Homo sapiens: one gene and its partners. The protein of the gene in region 2 purifies or fractionates together with the protein of the main gene of each other region. This does not show direct contact. Each region holds a gene or a part of one and is shown on either strand. Other genes may lie near its edges. The genes, in order: NUP88, G3BP2, TRMT1L, CCNT2, HDLBP, WDR36 and STAU1.

Evidence for each region.
Region 1: the proteins of G3BP2 (region 2) and NUP88 purify together in Homo sapiens (affinity purification with mass spectrometry; 2 studies listed by BioGRID and IntAct, with this or other methods). This does not show direct contact.
Region 3: the proteins of G3BP2 (region 2) and TRMT1L purify together in Homo sapiens (affinity purification with mass spectrometry; one large-scale study listed by BioGRID and IntAct). This does not show direct contact.
Region 4: the proteins of G3BP2 (region 2) and CCNT2 purify together in Homo sapiens (affinity purification with mass spectrometry, with the first as the bait; one large-scale study listed by BioGRID). This does not show direct contact.
Region 5: the proteins of G3BP2 (region 2) and HDLBP purify together in Homo sapiens (affinity purification with mass spectrometry; 2 studies listed by BioGRID and IntAct, with this or other methods). This does not show direct contact.
Region 6: the proteins of G3BP2 (region 2) and WDR36 purify together in Homo sapiens (affinity purification with mass spectrometry; 2 studies listed by BioGRID and IntAct, with this or other methods). This does not show direct contact.
Region 7: the proteins of G3BP2 (region 2) and STAU1 purify together in Homo sapiens (affinity purification with mass spectrometry; 3 studies listed by BioGRID and IntAct, with this or other methods). This does not show direct contact.

The regions. Positions count from the first base shown.
Region 1 is NC_000017.11:5,409,351-5,413,669, forward strand, and holds part of NUP88 (nuclear pore complex protein Nup88), read right to left. Parts: intron 1,440-4,319; coding exon 1,353-1,439; intron 1-1,352. UniProt on the Homo sapiens protein: Component of nuclear pore complex.
Region 2 is NC_000004.12:75,666,140-75,670,458, forward strand, and holds part of G3BP2 (ras GTPase-activating protein-binding protein 2), read right to left. Parts: intron 1-4,319.
Region 3 is NC_000001.11:185,149,954-185,154,272, forward strand, and holds part of TRMT1L (tRNA (guanine(27)-N(2))-dimethyltransferase), read right to left. Parts: intron 1,983-4,319; coding exon 1,872-1,982; intron 540-1,871; coding exon 426-539; intron 1-425. UniProt on the Homo sapiens protein: Specifically dimethylates a single guanine residue at position 27 of tRNA(Tyr) using S-adenosyl-L-methionine as donor of the methyl groups. Dimethylation at position 27 of tRNA(Tyr) is required for efficient translation of tyrosine codons.
Region 4 is NC_000002.12:134,917,388-134,921,621, reverse strand, and holds the start of CCNT2 (cyclin-T2), read right to left. Parts: upstream 2,801-4,234; 5' UTR 2,768-2,800; coding exon 2,610-2,767; intron 1,813-2,609; coding exon 1,731-1,812; intron 1-1,730. UniProt on the Homo sapiens protein: Regulatory subunit of the cyclin-dependent kinase pair (CDK9/cyclin T) complex, also called positive transcription elongation factor B (P-TEFB), which is proposed to facilitate the transition from abortive to production elongation by phosphorylating the CTD (carboxy-terminal domain) of the large subunit of RNA polymerase II (RNAP II).
Region 5 is NC_000002.12:241,305,280-241,309,598, forward strand, and holds part of HDLBP (vigilin), read right to left. Parts: intron 1-4,319. UniProt on the Homo sapiens protein: Appears to play a role in cell sterol metabolism. It may function to protect cells from over-accumulation of cholesterol.
Region 6 is NC_000005.10:111,095,041-111,099,359, reverse strand, and holds part of WDR36 (WD repeat-containing protein 36), read right to left. Parts: intron 2,282-4,319; coding exon 2,181-2,281; intron 639-2,180; coding exon 521-638; intron 1-520. UniProt on the Homo sapiens protein: Part of the small subunit (SSU) processome, first precursor of the small eukaryotic ribosomal subunit.
Region 7 is NC_000020.11:49,114,924-49,119,242, forward strand, and holds part of STAU1 (double-stranded RNA-binding protein Staufen homolog 1), read right to left. Parts: intron 3,486-4,319; coding exon 3,410-3,485; intron 3,174-3,409; coding exon 2,854-3,173; intron 2,326-2,853; coding exon 2,203-2,325; intron 945-2,202; coding exon 859-944; intron 1-858. UniProt on the Homo sapiens protein: Binds double-stranded RNA (regardless of the sequence) and tubulin.

The DNA of each region.
Region 1 (4,319 bases), on a different chromosome or scaffold from region 2:
GCGACAAGAGCGAAACTCCGTCTCAAAAAAAAAAAAAAAAAAAAAATTCTCATGAAATTAAGTGAAAAAAGCTGGCCATAAAATTATTTGGTTCTACTCTCATCTTAAATAGTTTAAATACACAGATATACAAATAGCAAAAATTTATTATATACACACACATAAATGCAAAAAGGAAACAGGAAAACACATGAAAACATCAACAGTTGTCTCTGAGCAGCAGGATCCGTAAGTTCTACAAATACTCGCAAAGCACCTACTCTGTGCCAGGTACTTTTCTAGGGTCTGGGAATATGTCAGTGAATTAAACAAATGTCCTGCCCTCTAGAGAGAGAAATACCACAAAAAGAGAAGAAATAAAGATGGAACATAAACTCAGAAAATATCATGAAAAATAAAGTAGGGTAAGAGGGTATTGATGGAGGTGCTACTTTAGACTACTTGGTATAGGAAAGACTCTGATAAGATATTTGAGCAAAGATCTGAAGGAAGTAAGAGAGCAAGTCTGTGGTTAACTAGGGAAGGAGCAGTTGAGGTGGAGAGCAAATGCTCTAAGGTAGAAGTGCTTAATGTCTGTGGAATGGCAAGGAGGCCAAGGTGCCTGGAGCCCAGAGAGCCAGGGCACAGAGGGAGGAATGAAGCTGGAAAGGCAATCAGGTGGCATACCTGTGGACCCTTTATAGGTAAAGACTCTGGGAAATCAATGGGGTATGGAGAGCAGGGAAGTAGAATGATCTGATTAAACTGATCTGATTAAACTTAGATTAAAGTAGAATGATGTGATTAAACTTTGGGTGCTGTATTGAAACAGGCTATAGCTATAGGAGATTACAAAGATTTTCATTTTCTTCCTAATACTTTGATCTATTTTTCTCAATTTTCTACAGCAAATATACATTACATGTATATCAAGAAGGCAAATCATAAAACCATGCTGTTTTTATATTTAAAATTTACTGTAGTTATTCAGGAAGATTCTAGTTCAATACAAAGTTAACAAATATGGTTAAAATGAAATCACAATTTCATATAGTTGAGAGAGCAAACATCAATGCAAGATATTATCTTAGTTTCTTTATCACATAGAAAGGTGATAAAGAAATGAATGGTGGCTCAGGCCTGTAATTCCAGCACTTTGGGGAGGCTGAGACGAGCAGGATCACTTGAGCCTAGGAGTTCCAGACCAGCCTGGCCAACACGACGAATCCCTGTTCTACTAAAAATACACTTACTTCTCACATTACCAAAAGCATGCTAGTCACCTCTGAAAAACCTTGCAACCTGTTAAAATTGCATTTATAATCCCAATAAGCTAATTAAAAAACCATTTCAAGACTCAAATAAAAACTTACCCTTTATTGAGTACTAGACTTTCCTCTTCGGCTTCTGAAAGTATTATCACGTTAGTGGGTGTCTGCGGCTCACGTAGTGAGTAAATTCTAGCAACCAAAAGAGAAGAAAACCAGCACTTAAAATTCTGTTTTCATTTCCCAAAACTGCACTTTCCTCTCCATCTAGTCAGTTCTTGAGAATTTTCTAACACTTATCACAACTATTTCTTTGCAAAAATCTTGCTGTTGCAAAGTAGTCTAGTTCATTTATTCTTTAACTACATAAGGGAGTTTCATTGGGGCCTGAAGAAATGTTCTCTATCCTTACCAATACCCTTTAACAGCCTATTCCATAACATCGCACCTCTGTCACTTCCGTCCTGAGCCCTTAGCTATACTCGCCTTGTCCAGTCATCTCACTATTGCCCCTAAGCTTGCCAGTTTTCCTTCAACTACACACATCTATCTCTGCCTATTGGACACCAAATCCCACCAGAGAAAGAACTGTATCTTATTCTTTATATGCCAACTGGCTGACAGAGTGAGTGATATTTAGCCTGCAAATCTACTTATGTGTTTGTTATATAAAAACCCAATATTGGCCAAGCACGGTGGCTCACACCTGTAATCCTAGCACTTTGGGAGGCCGAGGTGAGCAGATCACTTGAGGTCAGGAGTTCGTGACCAGCCTGGCCAACATGATGAAACCCCGTCTCTACTAAAAATACAAAAATTATTTGGGTGTGGTGGCACACACCTGTAATCCCAGCTACTCGGGAGGCTGAGGCAGGAGAATCACTTGAACCTGGGAGGTGGAGGTTGCGGTGAGCTGGAGGCTGGAGTGAGCCAAGATCACGCCACTGCACTCCAGCCTGGGCGACAGAGCGAGACTCCATTTCAAAAAAAAAAAAAAAAACCAAACAAACAAACCCAGTATCGTATCATCTCTATTTTCAAGGGAAAGTATAATACTGAATTTTTTTAACCAAAATTATTTTAATTTAAAGTAACCTACATTTCACAGCATATAAGGCTATTGTGAAAAAGGGAATTTTCAAAAGGCCAGTAATGTCATTTTAGAAATCCAGTGTCCCTTATAATCACTTATTTTGTCTGACGCCACTAAGAATTTTTTAACTTGGTTTCTTCCAATATCAATAAAATGCCACATTAAGTATTTAATAAATTTTTAATGATAACTTGATCCATTTGAATACACATTTATTACAGTCTTCCTAGGTTCCTACAAGCGTTACTAACTTCAAAATACACATAAATACTAGGCAATAATGTTGTACTGGGGAACAGTGAAAGAAAAAGAAGGTGCAACAGGGCATTCGGTGAAAATTTCCTTTTGCTCTGAAACTGCCCAAAATCTCCAAAGCTTAGGAAAACAGAAGTGTTAAATACCACATATTTTAAAAAAGAACCTTCAATATTTGGGGCCAGATACTTCCTTTGGGGCTTAAGAACTGTACCTATGCTATCTTCCCACCATCTCCTTTTCCATCATAGCATATAAAAGGAAGACTAAGAAGAGAGGATGTCAAAGATTCCTTAGGAGTACAGTATAATGTTTGTAATGGGAAGATTTTCCCTCTCCTCTTTCTCTGCCCTGAACTCTAAAGCCAAATGGGTGGGCAGGGAAGGCTCTAGGAAACAGCCAGATGTGGAGGTACCTGTAATAAGGGAGACTGGTGCATTTCCTAGCTGAATGCCCCTTAGTCACTTAGTAGCTGTCTCAGTTATAAGATCGAAAAAACATAGCAATACACACGTATCACGTTCAGTACTATCTACAGTTTCAGGCATTCACTGGGGGGTCTTGGAACACACACCCTGCAGATAAAGTATACTGTACCCCATCTTGAGAGAAGATTCAGGGCATAGAGAACTGACAGGAGCCAATGGGAGCCAGAGCTCCTCAGTGATGGGGGGAGCTGGAAGTTCAACACTGCCCTCCAACACCACCCCACCCCCCCACATACACACACACAAACACACCATCTATGCAGAGACTACCACATCAACAGAGTTCACTAGTGACAGATGGAACGAGATTCAAACAAGATCAGGCATACTTCCCCATCACTCACAGGCTACCAGTTCGGTAAGATCTCTACCTCACCTGTCCCACTCCCCTACCCCACACTGAAGGAGTTAGATTTGGAGGAAGGAGGGGGCAGCCCATTCCTTACACTTCACCCTATGTTCCAAAGTGCTGGGATAACAGGAAGAGTGAAAGAGCAGACCGCACACTCTCCAATCACTTCTGATCCCACAAAACACAGGTCTGACCTACAAAAGGGCCAGGACATAGTTGTGAAAGATTTGAGATCAAATAGCTTTCGACATTCTTATTTTCTTTAGACAGGGTTTTACTCTGTCACCCAGGCTGCAATCTTCCTACCTCAGTCTCCTGAGTAGCTGGGACTACCGGCACATGCCATTATGCCCAGCTAATTTTTTTTGCAGAGACAGGATCTCACTGTATTGCCCACATTGGTCTCGAACTCAGGGGCTCAAATGATCCTCCCACCTCGGCCTCCCAAAGTGCTGGGATTACAGGTGTGAGCCACTGCAACCAGCCAAGATGAGTTTTAAACTGGACACACTGTTTTCATAACTAGAAGTAACGAGAAAGCTATGGGGATCTGTATAAGACATCATTAAGGGGTGAGTCATTCAGCAGTGAAGGAAGATTTAGTAGAGCACAGTTAAAAGCAGTGATTACGAAAAATAAAACTGAAGGTATCTGTACCTCTGCTGAGTCCCCCCAATAACTTTTTACATAAGGCCGATCCAGAAAGTTAGCTGATAATAGAGTAGAAATCTACGTAGCATTAGGGCATTTAATCATAGAGTGCAAAGCTTGGAAGGGGCGTTAGAAACTATTGAATCAAACCTGCTCAATTTAAAAGATTGGAAACTGAGCCCCCCAACCCCTAAAAAGCTCAAGATCTCAAAGATAACAGAAAAGGAGGTGGG
Region 2 (4,319 bases):
GTTCAAAAAAAGCTTCAAATTGCCCACTATCTACATGGTCACTGAAGTATAATGGCCAACATACCATCAATTTAGAACAGAGAGACAGGGAAGGGCAGTAGAAGTAATATTTGATTAATCAATACTCAATAAATTAATACTTAGAACTATTGGAAGGCAGTAACTTGAAAAGTTAACTTCAAATGGTAAATAAGTAAGGCAATGCTAATCTGGTAAAATCTAAACAGGCATATAACAGGTTATATAGAAAGCTGAGCTTTTAAGGTGCAGAGGAGGCTCCCAAAGGAATGGTAAAACAAAATCAAGATTTACTGAGAGAACAGTGTTTCAACTAATTACATCAGTTACTTCTTTAACCATAACTCCGATTTGAAGTGACTCAGAATTTAGAGAGCCAAAATATAATTGATAGAAATCAACCAGAAAATGACTACTAGAGATCAACCATCAAACAACGTGGTTTGGGTATTGCAGGAAATAAGACTATGAAAATTGAGTAAGTAATATAAAGTTCGTATTTATAATTCATGCAGTGTACGTAAGAAGGTTGAGAAAAAGGAAAAAAGCCAAATTACACTTTCAGAATAAAAGTGATTACAAGAAGAAAGAATTGTGCCATTTTTATTATTCATAGCAAATCATCTTACAGGTAATCCATTTCTAGATCTGGGACCTTCCATTTCTTAAAAAAAGTTAACAAAACGAAACAAAATTCTGAATATGGGAGTAAAAGGTTTCAACTATCTTATCCATGGCCATGAAAAACTCATGACCTTACTGGATCTCGATTTCCTAGTTTACAAATTGAGAAGAAATCCCCGGTCAAGCCTACAAGACTATACAGTTCTACAAAGATAGCCAAGAAGGCCTGGTGCAGTGGCTCACACCTGTAATCCCAATATTTTGGGAGGCCAAAGTGGGTGAATCGCTTGAGCTCAGGTGTTTGAGACCAGCCCAGGCAACATGGCAAAACCCCGTCTCTACTAAAAAATACAAAAAATTAGCGGGGCGTGGTAGTGTGCAAGCGTAGCTCCAGCTACTCGGGAAGCTGAGGTGGGAGGAATGCCTGAGCCCGGGAAGTCAAGGCTGCAGCGAGCCAAGATGGCACCACCGCACTCAAACCTGGGTAACAGGAGTGAGACACTGTTTAAAAAAAAAAAAAAAAAGATAGCCAAGATTAAAGGATACTTATACACAAAAAGAAATCTTTAGAAAGTTCTTAGATTAGCACCTTCAAAGATAACTACCATCTTCAATAAGGTGGTTGTTAGCCTCACCTAACAACCTTTTTAGAAAAAGTTAAATACAATATATCACACTCCACTTCTTCCAATGACACCTGAAAATGTGAAGAATCTCACACAGGAATGCACAGTGTAAAATTTTATCTGATACATTAGCTCTATACACAGTCAAAGCTCTCTCATGAACAAATCCGTCTTTTACTTGTCAAATGAAAACATTATCCAAGGCCAGGCGCAGTGGCTCATGCCTACTTCCCAGCACTTTGGGAGGCAATGGCAGGAGGATCACAAGGTCAGGAGATCGAGACCATCCTGGCTAACACAGTGAAAGCCCGTCTCTACTAAAAATACAAAAAATTAGCCAGGCCTGGTGGTACGCGCCTATAGTCCCAGCTACTCAGGAGGCTAAGGCAGCAGAATTGCTTGAACTCAGAGGCAAAGGTTGCAGTAAGCTGAGATCACACCCTTGCACTTCAGCCTGGGCAACAAGAGCGAAACTCTGTCTCAAAAAACAAAAAACCGAAAACATTATCCAGTATAGTTTAGAGGCTTTTTACTCTCCAACTCTGCCTATCGCACCTAAAATCCCAGTGAATCTTCATCAGAATATTTTATTCATTCCTGTTTCTTAAAATGTTTCCTCTGCATTTGCCTAATTCCTGAAGCACATGCACTTCAGCTCTCACGGAAAATTGCTCTATATTTGTCACCATATTTTCTGAATCTATTAATTATACACATTGAGAGAGAGTGGAGTATTGGTAGATAATACACACTGAGAGGGAGTGGAGCATTGGTAGACATACATGCAGATTAGAAAAGAAAGTCACATTGAGCTTCATTATCCTACAATGAACTTATATTTCCTCAGTTTCAAAATAACGTAAAAACCAAAGTTATCACTCTCCTTTCCTCAAACTTTGACTAAAACGTCACCTTTTAGGTAAGAAACATTTAGGTTTTTTGTTTACCATTTAAAGTTCAGTGAATCACTACTATAATGGGGCTGCCTCCAAAACAATCAATCTTAGGCTACATTAATTTAGATGTAATATCTAAAATGAGTTGATTGCTAATTGAATATAGTGAATGGAAATTATAAGAAGGTAGATTTGGGTGAAACATAACACAAGAATAACGCGAGTTGTCCAAATATCAAATAGAGCTACTTAACAAGTAGCCAGTCACTACAGGTATTCCAGAGACTAACTGAATGGTTTGGCACAAACATAGTAGAGTCCATACATCCAAAAAAGTAAGATTAGGCCATTCCAACACTAAGATCCTAAAAGTCTGTTAACAAGAAGCAGGACTTTTGACTTCTCCTCCAATACTCATCTCACACCTTCCTATCTGCAATGATTGAAACCCTATGCATTTATCTGGGCCCAGCAGAAATCCTGTCCCCTTGAAAATCTTTCTACTCCTACTGAATTCCTCAACAGAATATAACTCTTCTCTATTAACTCTTAAAGCACTTTTGGCCTTTATCATAGCAGTTTATTGATCATGCTCTGCCCTAAATTACTAACTGTACACCTGTCTTCATCTTCTATTCCCCTCTCAAATATTATAACTCAGCTCTCCTTTGAATGCAATTCTCTGGAAACATCACAATTCTTCTCAATAATCGAATGACTTCTCAATCCTCCACCCATCTGCATTATCAATGTTGACTACCTCCTCCTAACTCTTCTAGAGTTCTATAAGGCAAATTTTCCTTCTCATCCAAACGCAGAATTTCTCAAGGTTCTGTCTTCTAACCTGGCAATTTCAGCTTCTGGTCTCATGTCTACCTAAACGTGTATCTAGTCTATACCATAAGTTCAAATTTTACATTTGTCACCACATACTGAACACCTAGACATGACCCACATATGTCCCAATACACGCATGCACCAAAGAAAGCTATTTCCTTATTTCTGTTAAAAGTGTCATAATCTTCTCAACTTGAAAGCTCAGTCGTGACTTTCTCCCCTTTAGCTTTGCCACTTAAACTGTGAAATCCTTACAATTCAGAAGGTGGAATTTGTGCCCTCCTTTTCACTCCCACTGTTCAGACCTTTTATTCTTCAAAAGTCTTTCAAGCCCCTGTATCACGTGTAGTATATACTGTACTGAGTAAAATCCAAACACCTGCATTCAGTTTGGCATCTAAGGCCCTACACAGAAATCCAGTCTGACATTCAATGTCATAACCAACCTTTCAAATTTATCTCCTACTATACTTTCTCATCCCTGTATCAAATTCTATACAAATATTTTAATCACCTAATATTATTCTCTGCAATTTCACTCTCTGCGCCTTTGTCTTACTTCATTCATTCCCATCCACAAGCTGAGTCAATGGGTTATACAAAATAAATTCATTTCAACATTTATTTTATGGCTACTATGTATGTACCAGAAACTACAAAAGGAAAAAGAGGCCGGGTGCAGTGGCTCACGCCTGTAATTCTAGCACTTCGGGAGGCCGAGATGGGTGGATCACCTGAGGTCAGGAGTTCGAGACCAGCCTGACCAACATGGCAAAACCCATCTCTACTAAAAACACAAAAAAGTTAGCCGTGTGCAGTGGCGGGCGCCTGTAATCCCAGCTACTCAGGAGGCTGAAGCAGGAGAATCGCTTGAACCCGGGGGCGGAGGTTGCAGTGAGCTGAGTTGTAAGTACTTGGTATTAGTTATTATAAAAAGAATAAGACCTCTAGTAATAGGAGGCAGTTCTCTTTACCAGATACTGTTACCAAAGGTTATGTGGGTGCTAAGACACAGCTTATCTCCACTATAGGATACTTACCCCTTTCCCCTCTGGAGTCCCTCACTCATAGCTGGGCTCAAACTAGTCAGGTTTATTTATTTTAATTGAACCATGGACTATATCCATTTCCAACAGCTAAATGCATATTAATACTGGAACTTTCTGAAATTCCAGATGGTTTTTGTTTGAAGTAACTTAAACAATCTAAGGAACACTATACCTTTTTAAAGAAATGACCTTCAATCTTTTGTGGTACACCATTGAATGAAAGCTTCACAAAGAAGATCTAAGAATCATAGTGGTACAAATAAATAATA
Region 3 (4,319 bases), on a different chromosome or scaffold from region 2:
TCTTAACTCCAGTAGTTTTTTTAAGCCATCAGCAGAAAGAGATATTATCTTGTATTTTCCAATATTCATACAAATTATTTTATTTTCTTATTTTACTACATGTACTATACCTTCCAAAATATGTGTAAAATAAAAGGAAAACTTATTAAAACATTGTTCAAGAAGCAAAATGGACTCCCAGGGTCAGAGTACTCAGTATACAACAGATGCATAATAAATGTTTGCTCAACTAAACTGTGTCATATAGATCTCTACTGCCTATAAAGCTATATGGTGTTTTATTAAATACATTAGAAATGAGGGCATTAAACCCCTCACATTTTAAACTGAAAATATTTGATTATACTCATGATAAAAATGCCAAAACTGGTAATAAATGTTGAATTTCATATATATTACTTCTTTGCAAGCACAAAAATACTAACCTTCAAATTCAACTGAGACTTTCCAGTGTAAATTCTGGAGGTGACGACGAAGCTTATGGCTATTACAAGCTCTGAATTTTTCCTTAGGGCACAATGGACAAGCCTGTCTGTTGCCTTAAAAAGAAAAAAGAATCAATAAACAACAGAATATTCTAGTTATTAATGCCTGGATTCAACTACAAAGAGGTTAATGGGGGCTCCCCCTCCTACTTCTTAAAGTCTTTCTTAACTTTAGGGAGAAGTCATTATTCTTGACCCAGGAGACAGTTAACAGTAATTGTTGCAGCACATGATCAGTGATTGTTTTTTCACCCTAAAATTTCCCTCTCTGTAGCTAGTGGATGCATTTGTCGTTACTGGGAACAAAGGTTGAAGAAGTGATAAACTGTATGACATCCTTCCGGCCAAATTTTCTGCCACTGAGAGCATCACTCTGTATTTTGGACAGCTGAAAGGACAGCAGTTACACTCCCAAAAGGACAGGGATTGGACAAAGAGCAAAAGTATGTGCTGTGGTATTCCTCTACTAAACTGGCAACAACAAAAACAGTTAACATGTGGAGTTAGAAAAATGGAAGAAGGAAGTGGAAGGAATAGATGGGATTTGATATAACCGCTGTTCTGAGACGGGGCGCATAGTTACAGCCACCGTATCCATTACTGAATTTACAAGTTCTGCCTTCTTTATTAACATATTCTCAAAAAGATTATGTATCATAAAAATGTCTTATTTAATTAGAAATATAATGTATCTCAAATAAAAACTTTGATAGTATAGATGAAAGAATTAAATTTCAAATTCAGGTTTAAAGCAATAAAATATACAGCAAGAATCATTAATAACTCATTTAGTAATTTTTTTCTTTTTTCTCTTATACCTACATACCTGTCAGCTCATATTAATAATTTTTAACCCAACAAATATCTTTCACATACAGTACAATAGAGTATAGGTACAATTTTTATTTTTACACTGTCTACTTCAAAAAAACCACGCAGTCAGCGATCTTGAGGATACAAACCAAACACTAAGGAGAGTAGAGCAGAAAGAGAGCAGTGTGGGGCACTGATAACGTGGAACTCTCATACCAGCCCTAAATTGCCTATCTTGGGACTTCATTTACCTGACAGAATATTAACCTCTTAAGACACTGTTTTTTGGGACCTCTGTTACTTGTAGCCAAATGCCATTCCTAACTTGCCGAATAGACAGCCCCTAGACATCCGTGAAATTATAATTTTCTTGAGGAGTTGTAAAATAACTTATTTCCATAGCAACTTTGCACATAAGCGGTTGCCAATTTCCTGAATAAAAAACTGTATTTTACCACTGTTCTAGTTCAGTAAGAATAAACAAGTCTACTCTTACCAAACTTATTTTTGTGAATTGAAAGATGATAAATTATTAGAAACTAAGAAAAAAAAAAAACCCAAACATGGAAATACCTGCATCAAGATTATCTGAGTTCAATGAGCTGGCAGAGTCAAAATTTCCATCAGTTACAAAAGCTAAATTCTCTAGATCAGCAAGCTGCCTTTGAATTGAGATGTGTCTCTCTGAAAAAAAAAATTGAGAAGATTATGCTTTAACAGTTTGTATTCTAGTTCCATTTTTATTGATCACATCGTATAGAAGTTTATTTCCTATAACACAGTGTTATGGACCTAGATGGGGAATACTGCCACAACTCGGTTTATAAAATAACAAGTGTGCTTTAGAATGAAAAGTTGGGGGGAGACCCCACTGTATAAACTTAGTTTTAAAATTTTATCTAATTAGTCAAAATAATTCTATGAAAAATGTTTCTGTCCTATACAAAATACTGAAGGAAACGTTAAGTCATGTTTTCTATCTTCAAAGAACTTTCAATCAGGTGGGAGAAGGCAATATGTCAACTTCTAACTATCATATGAGATAGGATGAAATGAACACTATTAAGTAGAGATTTGCTAACTGGCCTCATGAACTGAAGTAACCTCATGAACAAATCCATGTGTAGAAAACATACAACCATGCCACCCCACCCTTGGCTGGAATGTGGTATGTTTGGGGGGATGGAGTCAGTAGAAGTATGTGCAGCTGAAGATGCAGTACAGACCAAGGAAAACATAAATTCTACGCAAGTTAGTTTGAACTTTATTCTTCAAATAATGGTAAGTCTCTGCAGGTTTTTGAGGAAGTGAATTATACGATCTGAATGAGTTTCAGGAGGCTATCTCTGCCAGTAATACCAAAGATCAGTAACAGAGAAAATTAGCAATGGGAAGGGACAGAATAGAAGGTTAAAAAAATAAGCAACAGAACTTGGGATATGAGAAGTAAAGGTGAAGGATAAAATCAAAGATGATTCCAAGATTTTGAGTTTATGTGGTTGAGAATAATGGTATATTAAGCAAACAAGACAGAAGAAACTCTTATGGCAGAAAGGAAGGGGAAAAGAGAAAGGAAAATTTAGTTTTTGACATGGTGTGTTTGATGTACTACTGGTACAGTATTCCAGCAATAATGTATAATAGGCAGCTGGCAATTTGTTTTTGGAGCTCAGGAGGGATTCTAGAGATACAAATCGTAAGTAACACATTAGGTGAAACTATGAGAATAAATAAGAAAGCCTAAGAAAAAAAGTGTGAAAAATAAGAGAAAAAGCCAAGACCCAGTCTTACCTAGTTATGACTGATTTCAAACAACCAACTAGGCTATGTAAAATTAATTTTAAAATGTGATTTATATTTTAATTCTAATGCATTTCAAATTTCTCAATCATTACATATTTGTCCCACTAATGCATTTTCAGGTTTCTCAAGCATTACACACTCTTCAAATTAAATTAAATTTGGAAATACATGAATAAGTCTAAAATAAGTTTAACATGTTCTGACTGGGGTGGGTAGGGGATACATTCCCTACCTGTTGCTGAACCCGCTACTGATTATTATAGATAGATATAATCTGGTAGTGAGGTATGAGAGATGTAGATATTTATAAGAAAAATTAAGTAGAAGGAATCAGGAATGTAGATTCAGAAAGAATAAATGGTAAGGGGAATCAAGGTAATGCAGAAGCCAAGGGAGAAGAGTCTATAAACGCAAAACGTTCAACACTGAATATCACAAACAGTTGTAGAGATCAAGAAAGCACATCTGGTGACCTTTAAGAAAACAGGTTCAGGGAGGTGTTTCAGAGTAGAAACAGAATTGGAAGGGGAAAGGAAATACAGAAAATTAGGTTTTTCTTTTTTTGAGAAGTTTGACGGTATAAAAAAGGAAATGAATCAGACTGTAACTTGCTTTTTTTTAAGTATGGGGAACCTGAATATATGTGCATTCCAAGAGAAAGGAACAATTACAAAGTGGGGACTGAATATATATTAAGATTAGGAGAAACTGATATGTAAAGAGCCCAAGGAGACAGGAGATGGTGGGATAAACCACAGGGCTCTCTAATATTATGTTATTAGGTTATACAATTTAAAACCTTGAGACTTTAAAATTCAATTCTTGATATTAGCACCTTCTTGACTACTCCTCTCCGAGCTTCACTATCAGTTCGTTTACCCATTTGTATAATTTGTGTCCTTGTTCGCTTTCCCCACAAATAATCAACAGAAGACAAGGCCTATTTCTTGTTCATCTTTCTGATGGCTAAGTGCCTAATGCAGTAGCTTGCAGATAGGAGGCACTAAAGTTTGTTAAACAAGAAGTTAAAAAAATTGTTAGACTTTTTGGATGCAGTAGCACACTGTGTCAATAATTTTGGAATCCAATTCAGCACTATCAGACACTCCTGCTCAAATTTATTAAAAGGTAATTTTTCATATTATTATTATTTAAAGATGGGTCTTGCTCTGTCACCCAGCCTCCATGGAATGTAGTGGCTCAATCATAGCTCACTGC
Region 4 (4,234 bases), on a different chromosome or scaffold from region 2:
AGCACTTTGGGAGGCCGAGGCGGACGGATCACCTGAGGTCAGGAGCTCAAGACCGGCCTGGCCAACATGGTGAAACCCCCTCTCTACTAAAAATACAAAAATTAGCCGGGAGTGGTGGCACACACCTGTAGTCCCAGCTACTCAGGAGGCTGAGGCAGGTGAATAGCTTGAACCAGGGAGGCAGAGGTTGTGGTGAGCTGTGACAGCGCCACTGTACTCCAGCTTGGGTGACAGAGTGAGACTCTGTCTCAAAAAAATAAAAAAAAAATTAATAAATAAAAGAAGTGAAGACTTGTGGCTAGATCATTTATTGGAAGTACAAAAGTATGCCTGATTCGGCAAATGGGACATCTGTAGCCATATAAAGAATAGTCAGAACTATTTTGATTTGTAATTTCTACCATTATTATCCAGGGTTACGTAAGGAATGCCAAATTTATATTAACATTCATTAGTTCACTACTGCCTTTGGAGACAATTTATAATGAATTCCCTTAATCTAAATGTTATCACCAATGGCTTCCTTTCTCTTCCATAACACTATCACTGACCTAAATGTTATGCACAAGAAATAACTAGGAAACTAGAAGCAACAGAGCAAGAATTATGCAGATTTAAAAAAGAAATAGAAGAAGTCTTCAAGAGATCAAAATGTATATTAAAATACTTGTGGTCCAAGATAAACCTGTATGCCAAACTGATAAATGAAATAGGATCCGAAGAGATTAAGGTAGGACTCAATCTAAACCATGAAGCCTTTCCTTCCATTTCAAAAATAATATTCTGAGGATCTTTCCTAGGATTGTTTTCTTAGCAAATAAGTCCTAATGACTATCCACAAATAGCAGAAAGTCTTCTTTGGTCCATTTTTCTACACATACCTTTCAGAATAATATTCTAAAAATAACTATGATAAAAAGTAACAAATAAAGACAGAATTAAAGCAGAGTTAAACATTTCTAAACAATATGCAATTTTCTTTAACACACACAACACAGTATGCGTGTTACTCAACATACACCAAACTCGTATCTTTCATAAATGAAATTAACATTTCAACAAAATGCCATTACTCTATTTGTCAAGGTTTACAGGTTATATACCTTAATATTCAGGTGTAAATTTTACTAATAATACATAAACATACTCCTGACGTACTATATCTGAAGCAAGAGTGGACGTTTGAATCACCCAAAATTTTAGGAGACAACTGATGCTAACGTGATAAACAGAAACGTTGACATCTTAAGAAATTACTAGGTTAGCAAATGAAGAAATGAATTATTTCTACTAAATAGCTCTTTCAAAAGAATGTCATAATTAATTTAATCTCAATTGACAGTCTTTTAAACAATGAGTCCAACATAATTAAGATGTATCACAGAACGACCAGGCTTGCCCAATTCCACTGTACATCACTACTGAAATTATTCAAATGTTAAGTATAGAATTTAAATGAAGAAAACCTATGTAATAACTCTGTAAAGAAATAAATGTTTTTCTTTTTTAGCTTAAAAGGCCTGGCAGAGCTTAACAGTGCCTTGCAGTTTAATTCATCATAAATTTTAAAAACACAAAAACACCGCATCTGAAGCAAAATATTTATCACGTGATATACGTTTACCGTTAATTCAGAACACTAAATCCAACAACGCAATGACCAACTTTTTTTCTGCGTATCGATTTACCCTCAAATTTGCGGACAGTAAAAACAGACAACTAGTACTTACATTTTTGTTGAATTTGGTGAAAGAATGGTGCATATAAAACCTGTGCATATAAACAATCGCAGTGTTTATTGTAAGCTGAGAGCTGGAACGTAATATTTAGGAAATATCTGACAAAAGCAAGATCTCATTCCCAGAACAATTTTGATGGAAAATTCCCAGGTTCTTTTCCAATACCTCCCATTCAAATCCAAACCCCAAACTGGAAATAAAGAAATAAATGCCCGCGGGGGGTGGGGCGGCAGGAAGAGAATAGGCTTGACGCCAAATAAATGGGAATAAGAACTGCTGATCTTTTCACTCTAACAGCGCTGAGGGCCCTGGAACTATTTATCAATGGCTACGACTAACTAAACTCAAAATGAAACAGTTGAAACGCGCGCGCACACACCCATACAAAACCACGCCAAGAACATAAAGAACTCCAGTACGCTCCCAAGGTAGAAGAGAGCCGCCATCAAGCCGGCGACGAGAGCCGGGAAAGGCTGCGGCAAACACTTAGGCCTTTCAGCATCGCTAACCCTCCTACCTCTCAAACCCTTCGGGGTCAGGGACAAGTCCAGGGAGCCGCCCCTTTTCTGCAATAATCCCTAAAATTCCTCTTTCGCCTGAGCCACACTCCCAACCCCCGCCGCCACCACCACGCGCTGCCCCAAACAGATTACACAACGCAGGCTCCTGGCCCGCATTCCTGGGGTCCTATCTCCTCCTCCCTTCCTCTGCTGACCCCTCGCGACTGCCCGAGCCGGAACATTACTTCCCTGACCGCGGCGCCGAGGCCCAGCGAAGGCCGAGGCCGGCGGCGCCATGTTCGCGGGGCACCAGGCCCGGCGACCGGGCAAGGGAAACAGGGCGTGAGCGGCGGCGAACAGAAAAGGATACACATTGAGACGCTGTCCCATCTCCTGGATGAGGTTGGCCGCCTGCTGGCGGCACGAGAGCTCTTTATCCGCCTCCACTCCGCAGCGGCGGCTCGGCGTGTTCTCCAGCTGTTCCCGAGTAAAGAACCAGCGAGAAGAAGCTCCACGGCCCGACGCCATGACACTTCCTCCTCCGCCCGCTCCTTCATTCACCCCCCGCCCCTCCTGGCTCGCGGACTCCCCGCCAAGGCGCGCGACCCCGCCCCACTCCGCTCGCCGTAGACCACGCACCACCCTTTTTCACCACCGCCTCCGCCCTTGCGCATGCGCGGGGCCCGCTCTACCGACTCGCCCTAGTCTTTTGCTTTCTTTTTCTGCCCTCGGCCTCGCTCTTGCGCACGGGACCACAATGCTCCGCGCCGCTTGTCATTGGGAGGCGCCGAAGGTGGAGAGGTCGGCTCGGAAGGAAAAGGTCGGCGCAGCGCATGCCGGGTCTAGGGTTGGCGGGGCGAAGGGGTGGGGAGGGAAGGGGCGGGGAGGGGAGGGGAGGGGAAAGTGGGAGAGGGTGGACTCTGGCCGGTGTGAAGAGAGGCGGTCGGGCGGCTGCGCTGTGGGGGCCTGGGCGTGTACTTCGGAGGCCCGTCGGGCGCTTCCTTTAGACGGGAGGTCTAGCGGCCCTTTAAAAAGAGAAAAATAACCTTCACTGTCGCAGCCTCACGCCACTACTTCCATTTTCCTTTTGGGCGGGTCCGCGCAGTCTCGTAGGCGTGCGACTCCGGCCTCCGCCACCAACAGTCTCCGCCTAGCGCGCGGCTCTGGCGTTGAGCTGGCGGGGAAAGAGTGCACAGGAAGTCACGCTCCATGGCTGTCCGCACCTGAGTGCTTTTTTCACCCTACATTATCTTGTTTAAATCCCAGACCACTTGGTTTATTTTTATTTTTTCAAATTACTTGGCAAACGCTATCCAACTAGCAACGAGAAATTGAATTTCTAAATGAGGTGTTGAATCTAGACGGGGCGTGTTTTCAGGCTGCGCTGTGGTTTCTGCGAGACAAGGTTGGGGAGAATCAGATAGTGCAGGAGGAACTGAGTTAAAATTTTATCTTTAGGATTTGATGTGGGAACATCCCACATACCTGTTGATTAACTCCTGTATTTCTTCCTGTAAGAAAATGCCACTGAGCTTCACTCGGAGTTTGTGTTGTGAATAGGGTTTCTAAGTTTAAAGTCTTAACTATTTGGAGGCCGGGCACGGTGGCTCACGCCTGTAATCTCAGCACTTGGGGAGGTCCAGTGGGCCGATCACTTGAGGTCAGGAGTTCGAGGGCAAGGGCAACATGGCGATACCCCGTCTCTACCAAAAATACAAAAATTAGCCAGGTTTGGTGGCGCGCCTGTAGTCCCAGCTACTCCCGAGGCTGAAGTGGGAGGATGGCTTGAGCCCAGGAGGTGGAGGCTGCGGTGAGCTAGATCTCGCTGCTGCACCCCAGCTTGGGCGATAGTGCAAGACCTTGTCTCGAAAATAAAAAATAAAGTAATATCTATTTGCCAAAGACCATGGAGGCAAGTGATTGTTATGGGGCTCCCACGCTCAGCATACTGCATTGCACAAGAATATTGATTATAGTAGGCAGTTTTTGTAACAG
Region 5 (4,319 bases), on a different chromosome or scaffold from region 2:
CACCCGGCTAATTCTGTATTTTTAGTAGAGATGGGGTTTCACCATGTTGGACAGGCTGGTCTCGAACTCCTGACCTCAGGTGATCCACCCGCCTCAGCCTCCCAAAGTGCTGGGATTACAGGCGTGAACCACCGGACCTGGCCAGGCTCTACTCTTTCCAACCAAAAAAACGGGGCCTGTGATGGCTATACCCTAGAGCCCTTTCAAGGACTGACCCTTTACAGCAGGGCTCCTCAACCTCAGCGCTGCTGACATTTTGAGTCGAATACTTCTGTTGCGGGGGCTGCCCTGTGTACCACAGGATGTAAGCATCTCTGGCCACAACCACCAGATGATTGTAGGTCACGACAACCACAAAGGTCTCTGGACACTGCCAGATGTGCCCTGGGTAACAAAAATCACCCTGGTGATAACCACTGCTAGAAATAAATAGCGTGATGACTAGTATATAGGAAGCAATGAATACAAAGTTGTTTATTTGTTTTTTTTTTTTTTTTTGAGATGGAGTCTCGCTCTGTCGCCCAGGCTGGAGTGCAGTGGCGTGATCTCGGCTCACTGCAAAGTTCCGCCTCCCGGGTTCACGCCATTCTCCTGCCTCAGCCTCCCGAGTAGCTGGGACTACAGGCATCCGCCACCATGCTCAACTAATTTTTTGTATTTTTAGTAGAGACGGGGTCTCACCGTGTTAGCCAGGATGGTCTCGATCTCCTGACCTCGTGATCCACCCACCTCAGCCTCCCAAAGTGCTGGGATGACAGGTGTGAGTCACCGCGCCCGGCCAAAAAGTTTTAATAGGTGAGGATTTTTATATCATTCATGGATTCTTAAACGTGATCACAAAATCAGATGTTTTATGAGTGACTACCAGCTCCAAGTGTTATCCTTCCAAACTTGAAAACTGAATTTCTGATAAACTGAGTTACCCAGGTTCTGAGGCATCTGTTTAAAAAAAAAAATGAAAAATGAAAAACCCACTCAGAGATTCAGCTTTTTTTTTTTGAGATGGAGTCTTGTTCTTGTTGCCCTGGCTGGAGTGCAATGGCGTGATCTCGGCTCACTGCAACCTCTGCCTCCCAGGTTCAGGCAATTCTCCTGCCTCAGCCTCCCACAGCTGGGATTACAGGCATGAGCCACCACGCCCGGCTAGTTTTGTATTTTTAGTAGAGACGGGGCTTCTCCATGTTGGTCAGGCCAGTCTCGAACTCCTGACCTCAGGTGATCTGCCCGCCTCAGCCTCCCAAAGTGCTGGGACTACAGGCGTGAGCCACTGCGCCTGGCCTCAGCTTTCTTATTTTTAAAAGAAAGGAGCTGAAATCCTACAGGTCAAAAAGTACCCCAAGTCAGGCTGGGAGCAGTGGCTCATGCCTATTATCACAGCACTTCATTGGGAGGCCGAGGCTGGCAGATCATTTGAGGTCAGGAATTCGAGACCAGCCTGGCCAACACGGCAAAACCCTATCTCTACTATTGTGCATGCCTGTAGTCCCAGCTACTCAGGAGGCTGAGGCAGGAGAATTGCTTGAACCCGGGAGGCGGAAGTTGCAGTGAGCGGAGATCATGCTGTCATACTCCAGCCTGGGTGACAGGGAGAGACTCTGTCTCAATAAATTAAAAAAAAAAAAAAAAGTATCCCAAGTCCCCAAGTCATAAGGCTGATAAGAACAGGTCCAGGGAGTAGCTCTGAACCTATTCAAAAAAAAAAAAAAAACGAGGAAAAGCCCAAAATTGAAGTGAGGTCTCCTGACTCCCAGTACAGTCAAAGACACCATCCTTTCATTTTTGTTTCTTTTTTGGGGGGCGGGGGGGACAGGGGGGCAGTGTCATCCTAACCTGGATAAACATCTCAACTCTTTGTTGAGTCAGGGAGAAATAATCAATATCCTGCCTTCTGTACCTAAGACAGCAAGTACTGCTGCAGGTCTCACAAGGTCTACCTCAAGAACTTCTGAGACTACAACAGAGGGAAAAGGCAAGCCCTAGAGTGGATCTGAAAAACGCTTATTTGAAAGAATTCATCGAGACTGCTCACGCCACTTGCTGACTGTTGACTTTGACATCAGCCACTTCTTACCTCTTCCTGCCCCAGGAGAGACCTGCGGTCATAGCACTGGGGTCTCTGGGATACAGCTAAGCCTCCTGAGAGACTGGAATGGGATGGGTAGGGGCTACACGAATAATGGTTTAATTAACATTGACAGTATTAATAGATTAATACTGCAGTGGGCTTGCTGTAGTGATGGTCTACCAAGGAACTTGATTTTTTAGCTTTAAAAATATTCTAAAAGATAACTCAACAAAACAATGTAAAAACTGGCAACCCCCCCATGAGGCTTTACCAAAAAATATATTCTAAACTGTATCTTCAAAACTGTAATTTTAATTATACTTTAATTATAATTTTAATACATGATTTAAATAAAAATAGGATCTTACATGCATTCTTTCACCATCTGCTACACTTATTTTCATTTGAAAAGACACCATGGCCATCTTTCCGAGTACCAAATACAAATTTACCTCATTTGTTAACAACTACATGTTGAGTGGAGTAAACATACCTTAATAAATCCCCTACTGATAGGACCCTTGAACTAATTTTTTTTTTTTTTTGCGATTATAAACAATGCTGGAAAGAACATCCTCTGCTCACTTGGGCCTCTACCCCCACAGGATAAATTGAATTGGAAATGGAATTATATGATGACAGGCAATGCATTGATAGATATTGCCAAGGTAAAACTGCCCACCTCCCAAAGAGTTTAACTAGTTACACTCACAACACCTGATTACAGAATACCTGTCCTCTTCTCCTTTGAGGACAACTAAAATGATCATGTTTATTCTTTTTTCCAGCCTGATGTGCGGGAAATACGATTTTAATGGCAACTCTGATCATCAGTGAGACAGCAATCTTGTTGAGCTTATTGACCTTTTGAATTTCTGTACTGTGAAGATCAAACTAATCACAACCAATCCGTCGTCCACCTTTCTACCAGTGTTTCAGCAACGCTTGTGAGACAAAGCAAAATCCACATCTGGGCAACAGAGCAGTAGGAATGAACAGAAAGAATTATAAATTTAAGTGAAACTCAAGTTGTATGCCAAAAATAACATTCCTAAAGGGCACCCAGGCAAAAGTGATGAGAAAATACTATTAAAAAGGACATCTTTTGCCTCAATTAGTCACACAGTAGACAACGTAAGCTGATGACCTGAGACACCTCAGCCTGCCAAAGTTCCGTTTCATTCACAAACATTAACCTACTCTGCTTTAAGAGAAGGGCTCCCCCAAAAGGTAATTGTGCTTGCAGAAAAGCGTCAAAGTGTATACTGTTTTGCGGGGTATGCAGACCTGGGTAGATGGTAGACTGAGGCTGACTGACAAGGCCAGGTTAGGGAAGCAGTGAAGTAGCTGAAGGCACAAACTGGAGCCAAACCACTAACTCTAGCCTTTGCCTCAGGGTCTACCTCGACCTGTGATAACAACAATACTTGCCTCCTACAGGTGACAGGAAAAGTAAGAAATGTCGTGAATGGTGTGGCCCATGGTCACTTCACCACGATCCACCACCAGTACTGGGTCACTCTGCTCCAGCTCTCCAAAGGCATCAAGATCCGACTGCTAGGAGCCCCGGCTTCTTCCCTGACCTGCCCGTCTCCTACACCCTCTGGTCCTGCTCCACACTGGTCTAATAACTGGTGTTCCACATTCCTCTAACGTGCACAACACAGTCCTGCCCCCGTGCTTTTCACCTCCTGTCCATTCCTCTTATAACGCTCTTCCCCAGATCGCTGCCCATGGCTTGTTTGCTCATCTCAAGTTTGAATCAACTGTCGCTCAATCAGCAAGGCCTCCCCACTATGCCAAACTGCCACTGTGTCCCCCACTCCACTCCCCTCGATACTTTATTTTCCTCCTTTCTTCTTGTCCACATTGGACATACTGCATATCTGCTGGTCTGCTGACTGCCTGACACCGCTTACCAAAACGTGACCTCCGTGAAAGTGCAGGAGAACACACTTGCATTTTCCTTACTGTGTCCCACTTCCTGGAACAGTGTCTCCAGCACGAGCCGTTGTCAGATCAATACATTTACACTACTTCGTGAAGCACCACTAAAATGATAGTAAACGATTTTTTCTTTTTTTAAGATACAAATCACGAAAGCAAAGAATAAGAATAGAGATAAGAACATTAAAATACTGGAGGCTAGAAACTGGAAACAGACCTAAAAGGGCTGAATCCTGTATCGGCAATGGGGAAGGCCAACTGGCAATATGACTGGAAGCCAGGAGACCTGAATTAAAAACAGAGTTGG
Region 6 (4,319 bases), on a different chromosome or scaffold from region 2:
AGGAAAGGTGTAGATATCCTAGGGATAAATTCTTCATGTTTAAAGATACATAATCCCATAAACATAGCCACTGTCTAAGCTATCACAGTTGAAAGAAACTGACTCATATCCCTAGGAAATGGATGTATATTTTCCTTCAGATTACAAGATCAAGTTTACTATTACAGTCTCCTTTACTAAAAGGTGAAAATACAAACCAAGAATTACTCAGGTATGAAAATACATCAATATTCACTCCACAGGGAAAACAATACAACAAATCATTAAAGTTGGAGAACTGCAATGGAAAATACATTAGTTGAGGTAAGCACATTAAACAGTTTATAAGTAGTTAACTTGCTAAAGTTGTTTATCTCTTTCTTACTTAGAACTTTTTTTCTTACACGTTAAAGATTTTTGATTTTTTTAATTTCTTACTATTTACAGGCAAAATCTCTGGCATAGATGTTTACATAGATTTTAAATTTTAATTAAACACATACTACCCTAAGATAAAGCAAATAAATGAGTTAACTCTTACCTTCTGAATATATGTGCCAAATAATAAGAATGCCATCAGTATCAACAGAGATAATGTGGTCTCCAAAGGGTTGCAAGAAATGGATTTCTGCCTTATGACCCTTAAAGGTATGTACTATCTAAAACATCGAAGTTTAAAAGAATTTCATATTATTACTCAGTCATCATGTCATATTATTCATATTATCCCAAAAACATGCTAATCCTGAGATGCTTCTGTTAAGAAATGTACCCCAACTTTTGATTATTCAAGGTTAGGATGAACACATAAATATTAAGGGACCAGGCATGTTCATCTGCTCCCTCAGCCAGTTCAACAATAAGGAAGTAAACTGTCCATTAAGAACAAAGAAATGAGACCTCTGAGGCTCTGCCTTCCATCTTGGGTTAGAGAGGAGGCATGCACACACACCTAGTTCCCTCACCCAATTCAATCAGTGCAACTACATATATCCTAGCGAGATGGTATATTCCAGAAGGCTGATCTCTAAAGACTCCATCACCAACTGGCTTTCAGATGAGATGGGAAAGGGGGATATAGGGTCTTCTTCCCCATACCCTTCTGCTTTGACAGAGATCCTTACAGTAGCTGATCCCTCCATAAGTATAGCCCCTTCTCCATGGTTTCAGTTCTCACTAGATTCCAGTAACACTGTTTCCTCTCCTTGGCCCTTTGGCCTTAGGGGTGGTAACAACTTCCTACAGTTGACAGTGTCTGACGCCTCCCCACCCCTATTTTGTTCCCCTAACCCTGACCACACCTGTGCATAAAGGTCCTTTATTAAAGTCTCCACATCTGAACCACATATAGGTTATACATATAGGATAAAGTCTCCTCATGTAAATCACATATATCTCCCTGGGAAAACTATAAACAACAATACAAAAATGAACATTTTTTCCAATTCTAAAAATCTGAACACCTTCCATTAAAGAACTCTACAGATAAGTTACCTTCCTCTGCCACAGGAAGTGATGATGAAAGACTGTGGGAACCACCTCACTCCAAGTCCCTGACAAGTACAGTGATACTATCATTTGGCTATCTTTGTACCCCCATTCCTACATTTCCTTTCATTCTAGACCATTAAGGCCAGGTCACTTCTCAAGCTAGTTGTTCCAGGACAAATTCAGAAACCAACTGGTAGATTTAGACCAGAAAAGATCTTTCCTTAGCAGTGGAGAAAACATAGAATCTAGCTTTCTCTAAACAGCGAACAGGCATCTGATTTTTAGAAAAAGAGTTATAAGCTAAGTTATACATAATAAATAACCAATCCACATAAAGTGGTGGTGCAAATATGAATTTTCTAGGAAAGTATTTTAAAACTACACTTAATAATACACATTATGTCCTATCTCAACAAATATACAAAATAGAAAACTCCTGAGATGGGAACTAACGGCATAAAAAATTTTGAAGAAGGTCTCCAAGTAATTTTGATATTCATCTCTGGCAAAGAAACTGAAGTAAAGCACCAGTTTTAAGTAAGCCTTTTCTGAAAATTTATCTTCCTCCAGAAAACTGAATATACATTAGAAAAAAAAGAATACTGTATAGTTCCAGAGTGTGCTGGGTAAAGAATGACAAAATTAAAGTTCCCTCCACTATCATGACAAACAAATACTGACTGACAAACAAGTAGTTTAGCGATACCAACCTCTTTATTACGGGCAAATGCAGAGAAAACATTTCCATAAGCAGCAAAGACTAATCTGCCATCAGCTGCCATACAGCAGATATCCTGTGGAACAGAATTACCTAGCAGAAAATACAAAATGAAAGAAACAGGGATTTTTAAGATGTTAAAGAGAAACCTCAAGTATACATATAACATTTTTCATGGCTATAATTTAAAAAAATATATAAATAAAGATCAAAGTTGAGAATCAGTGTATAAAATTTTAACTAAAATATTTTAGATATCTAATAGTAACTATCAAACTAAGGATAGGAAATCACCTTGTCCTTCCCTAAGAGAATGTCTAGGATTTGCAGAAATAAAAACATAATCCTAGAGAAATGAAAACAAGCTTTTTGAGGTTATTTGGAAAAAACTGTCATTTGAAACACAAAGCTCTGACAGATAGTCATCCAGTCTTCACGTGAACATCTTTTTTTTTTTCTTTTTTTTGAGAGACGGAGTCTTGCTGTGTCACTCAGGCTGGAGTGCAGTGATGCAATCTTGGCACACTGCAACATCCGCCTCCCAGGTTTAACTGATTCTCCTGCCTCAGCCTCCCAAGTAGCTGGGATTATAGGAGTGCACCACCACACCCGGCTAATTTTTGTATTTTTAGAAGAGACAGGGTTTTGCCATGTTAGACAGGCTGGTCTTGAACTCCTGACCTCAGGTGATCTGCCCACCTCGGCCTTCCAAAGTGCTGGGATTACAGGCGTGAGCCACATGCCTAACCCATGTGAGTATCTTCTGGAACATCAAGTTCACTAATAACTCCAGAAAAATTTTAAAAGTAACTCAAAATCTAAATCTCTAACTCTACCCTTTGGACCAACCCAAAAATATTACATATGGTATTCTATATGCCTATTCCTAAAACATTTAAAGACAATATTGTTTCTACAGTCTTCTCCAAGGGAAATATGCCTATCAATCTTTAGCATTTCTCACGTGACATATGATTCTTCTCTCAGTATCCTGGTCACACTGACCTTTTCATTTCCTCTTTTGGGGCAGGAGGGTTAGTAGACACAGGATTGTTGTACTTTTCATGCTGCAAATTCCATATTAGTATTTGTTTGCATAACCCTGTTTTATAAGTTTATCATTCACTTTTGTATTCAACTTAAGTTCCAATGCCTTTCTTCTGCCTTCTAATCTATTATTAAAATATAAGTTTAATACACATACACATTACAGTCCTTGTAGGTCTTCTGTTTCTCTCACAAGAACCATATTTGATGGTAAAACAAGTACCTCTCTGCCCTGAGAAATGTTTTATTCTATTAGATAGTTTAAAAAAAAACCCTTCCATTGGAAAGAAATACCAAAATGTGAGAAAAGGGAAAACTTCTCCTTACAGTAGAAGGAATGATGGCAAAAGAAAATCACTATAGGCTGACTATGCTTTATCTGAAATGTTTGAGACCAGAAGTGTTTCAGATTCCGGATTTTTTTGGATTTTGGACTATATGTATAACCAGGTGAATGTTCCTAATCTGAAAATCTGAAATCGGAAATGTTCCAATGAATATTTCCCTGTTAACGTCATGTTGGCTCTCAAAAAGTTTCAGACTTAGGAGCATTTTGGGTTTCAAATTTTTGGATTAAGGATAATCAACATGCATTTGGCAACCATCATACTAATAACTGATTCAGGCAAGTATCATCATAAAATATAAAAGCAGCAGGTAATAACTTTGAAGAGTACTAAGATATTTACATAGTCCCAGTGCATACTACCAAAAGATACTTATTCGTTACAAATGACAAAACACTAACTTAAAAATAGAGCCTCCTAACCAATCACTACCAGGAACAGAACCAACTAACAGCATGTGCCTTCTGATACAATTCACTGTGATTCCTCCCAAGGGGTACAACCTAAATCTAATCCTGAAGAAATGTCAAAAAAACTCAAACTGAAGGACATTCTAAATGAGCCTGTACTCTTCAAAAATGTCAATGTGTCAATGTCATGAAGCACAAAGAAAGTCTAAAGAACAGTTCCAGATTAAAGAAAATAAAGATACATAACAACTAAAAGCAAAACATGATTTATCCTGGCACCCTTTTTTGTTGCTGATAATGTAAGTTTATAAGACATACATGTTACCT
Region 7 (4,319 bases), on a different chromosome or scaffold from region 2:
GTTTTGAAATGTAAGAGAATTAAAGTACTGTTAAAAATGAAAAGAAATTGGCAAACATCAGGAAGTACAATACTAAAAGCCCCAGTTTATGATAACAAAAGTTTTCCCAGGGTATGCCAGTAAGTAAAATACGCAAGGAGAGTGTGTGTACTTATCTCTGTGGGGGGAAAGGAAGAAAATGAGGGAAGAAATATATGTCTATATTTGTATAAAGAAACATACAGGAAAGATACAGGAGAAACTAGTAAAAATGTGATCTATGGGGGAGGCGGTGGGGAGAATAGGAGGGATGGGATGGGGGCTGTCCGAGGGGAAGATTGTACCTTGTAAAATAATGCAGAGTTCTGACCATGTGAAGGTATGACCAACTCAAAAAGGTTTTTTTGTTTTTTTTTGGGACGGAGTCTTGCTCTGTCGCCCAGGCTGGAGTGCAGTGGCGCTATGTCGGCTCACTGCAACCTCCGCCTCCCAGGTTTTAAGCAGTTCTCTGCCTCGGCCTCCCAAGTAGCTGGGATTACAGGTGCCTGCCACCACACCTGGCTAATTTTTGTATTTTTAGTAGAGACAGGGTTTCACCATCTTGGCCAGGCTGGTCTTAAACACCTGACACCTCATGATCCACCTGCCTTGGCCACCCAAAGTGCTGGGATTACAGGTGTGAGCCGCTGTTCCCAGCCTCAAAATGTCTTTTAAAAGTAGAGCTTTCTGCCCAGAGAATCTGGAAAACTTTCAGGCAAAAGGGCCAGAAAGTAACTCAGGCAAATATTTCCCCGCTGAGTCAGCAGATAGTGTAAACTCAACACAAACGAGGGGCAGCCTCCCCATCATCAGCGCCTTCCCCTTCATCAGTGCACTCACACAGACATTGGTCCGTTTCCTGTTCTTGGCATCTCTGTACTTTGTTGGTCCAACTCAGACAGCAACTTTAAGATGTTCAGCGCAGCCTAGTGGGGATGGAAAGAAGGGTAAAGCCACAGCCACCGCTTGGGACCACAGCATAATACACTGGTCAGGCAGGCAAGAGAGTTCCTGCTGCCCAGCAAACAGGTGGCAACTTCTTCAACTCTGGTACTACTAAATAAAACTTTGAATTTTTAATTTAAAATACAAATTAAAAAATATTCAGTTACCTCACTGAATCATAACCTCTGAAAATGTTATATTTTTCCTTCTAGTATTTTTAACCATGTGGTAACCAGACTGTATAAATGTTATATCCTGCTTTCTAACAAAAATCTATCATGTATTTTTCTTTCTATAGAGACAGGGTCTCACTAAGTTGCCCAGGCTGGTCTCAAACTCCTAGGCTCAAGCGATCCTTCCACCTTGGCCTCCCAAAGTGCTGGAATTACAGGTGTGAGCCTCCACACCCGGCCTATCATGTATTTTTCTTCTTATTACATTATCTTCGGAGACACTGTTTTGTTTTGAAACGCAGTCTCACCCAGCTGCCCAGGCTGGAGTGCAGTAGTGCAATCTTGGCTCACTGCAACCTCCACCTCCCGGGTTCAAGCGATTCTCCTGCCTTGGCCTCCCAAGTAGCTGGGATTACAGGCACCCACCACCACACCTGGCTAATTTTTTTTTGTATTTTTAGTAGAGATGGGGTTTCACCACGTTGGCCAGGCTGGTCTTGAACTCCTGAGCTCAGGTGATCCGCCTGCCTCAGCCTCCCGCAGTGCTGGGATTAGTGTGAGCCACCACACCCCACCCAGAGACATTAATTTCATGCATGCATGACATCCCATCAAGTGAATACATCACAGTTTACTTAGATTTGTTGATCTGATCAATTCCTTTTCTCAGTTTTCTTATAACAATAATTTCATCTGAACAGAAGACCAAAGCAAGTGGTTTTTACAGCTGCCAGAACGTGGACCTGCAATTCCTTGTTCTGGTGAGAGATGAAGTGAGTGCAGTCTCTGGGTGAGCTGCAGGATCCCAGTTGCCCCTCCAGGCCAGCAGGGAAAAGGAAGGGAAAGGTGGGCTAAAGCTGATGAGTTCTGATCAAGAGTGAGAAATCGATCCAATCAGCTATGACAAAAAGTCTTCAAAAATATGAACACTATCAAACGATTCATTGCTCTCAAGGTCTATGGGACAATCTTTCTCCCATCTTCCTCAGGCTAGTAACAAGCTGAACCAAGGCAGGCTCCACATAAACACACAACACCCCAATCCCTCACCCAAGGTGTGACGTACCATATCATGGCAGGACTCCACATCCTTGCCGATACCATGGCTGATCAGAGGTGGCTGAGAGGAGCAATTGATAAGAGATACAAATTCGTTCTTGTTGTTTTTGGGGAAGTCTTTGTATTCAACCTAAGGGGGAAAAGAGAGCTGAGGCTAGGTAGGGAACAGCAAGTATGAGTGGGCTGGAGGGCTGCAGCTCCAGGCCCCACAAGCAAGATCACCAGCTCTTTTTTCCAACTCAGCCCCACTGTGGCCATACTAACACCTGCCCTGTCAGCCCAGAACCTTCCAGGAACCTAGGTGTCTGCTCAGAAGCCCAAGACTGGGAGAAGCCATATCCTTTCCTACCAGACAGAAAGTGTCAGCACGATGAGTCTGTTCTTTGAAATCCAAATTTACAACCACTGCTAGTGGTTAGAAGCTTTTAGGGTTGGCTTGCATGTTGAAATCTTACTACCAAAGGATAAAGATATTTCTCTTACCACATATGCTTACAATACTTCTATACCTCCTACCCTTCCATCACTGCTCCCCAGCCCATCCCTGGACAGAACTTGATTTAAGAAAAAAGTACAAAGTTCAAAGTTCATTTTCTGAGAGAAGCCAAAAGATGACTGTCCTGAGGCACAGCCATCACAGCTCAGGCCAGACAGTTACCTGGAATCCCTGGACTCTGGAAAGATAGTCCAGTTGCTCAGAGGGTCTCGTGAGAGGTCCATGGGGTACGTGGCCTGAAGAGATGTTATTCTTTAAAATGGTCTCGGCTGTGGGCGAGGTGCCCCCATACAACAACTCTCGGGCTATCATGGCAGTTACCGTGGCCTTGGCAGGATTCGGAGCTGCCCTGGTAAAATCTTTGGTGTGATGTCCTTGACTAACTCCTACAGCCTGGGCGACCTCGGGCACCATGGGAAGAATTCCAGCAGGCAGCTGCTGATGACTTAGATAAGGCATCCTGAACTCATCCTCTTTATTACCTGGGAGGGACATACACGGTAAACACGAATCCACATCCACAGCCTGGAAAAACGCAATGACACCATCAAACCCCACGCTGGCCCTCCCCTTGGCACGCATGGCAGCGCAGGGAATCAGGGAATGATAAAGACACTTTGCATGCGGGACCTCACTGGCTGGGCTCCTGCTGTTATTCAGGACCCATGCAAATCCCAGAATCACGTTCAGAGGAAGACGATATTAAGATCACACTTACTAGTCCCATTTTCATCCCCAGAGCCAGGTTCAAAAAAGGTTACTTTTCTTCCATCCCCTGGTTTCTTTATGGGTGTCTTAAAAAAGAAGAAGAAAAAAAAAAGGCCATGAGCATAAATCAGATCACTGAAAAATTAGCTCCTGCTGTCTAAATCTACACAAAGTCCAGTCAGCAATAACTGTGGCAATCGGCAGAAAAACCCTGCCCCACCTGACCACTGGCACCCTGACAGACACCTGGGCAGAGCCTGCCTCCTTCTCCTAATGCACCCTCCTGCCCACACCCCTGCCCACAAAGAGCATCTAACAAAGTGCACTAACCTGTGAATGCTGAGCTGCACTCTGCACCCACAGGAAGACGGGAAGCATTTAACCAGAAAGAGCAGAGATGCTAGACGGTAGAGCCCACCAAGGTGGGGAAAGAAGCTTTCAGACTGAAGCTAAACAAATAAATCAAGAATATTTCCTGGAGCTGATATCCAATTAAAAAATAAGGTGACATTCCAAAATTAACACCCTTACGGGGAAAATGTTATTACCTAAGAATTTTGTCTAACACAACATCACCTTTCTAAGAAGTAACAAAGGACACTCTGAATGTCCTACAAGATTCTGAAATGAAAAACCCTAAAGCCAAGTCTAAGATCTATACTGGTGGTATCTGGGGTCCCAGTCAGTTATTAACTGGCCATGACTGATGCTGTTTCTGTCAATATGACTGGCAGACATGAATGAATCAGGCCTGATTTCAAGTTTATCTCACCAGGACCATTCAGTGATGGGAAAGAAGAAGGTCAGCCATGGCTTTTGCTGAGGTCCTGCTTACCACTTCTGGCAGACACGAATTTTTCTTTTTACGTTCCTTTTTTGTTGTTGTTGAGACAGGGTCTGTCGCCCAGGCTGAGTGCAGT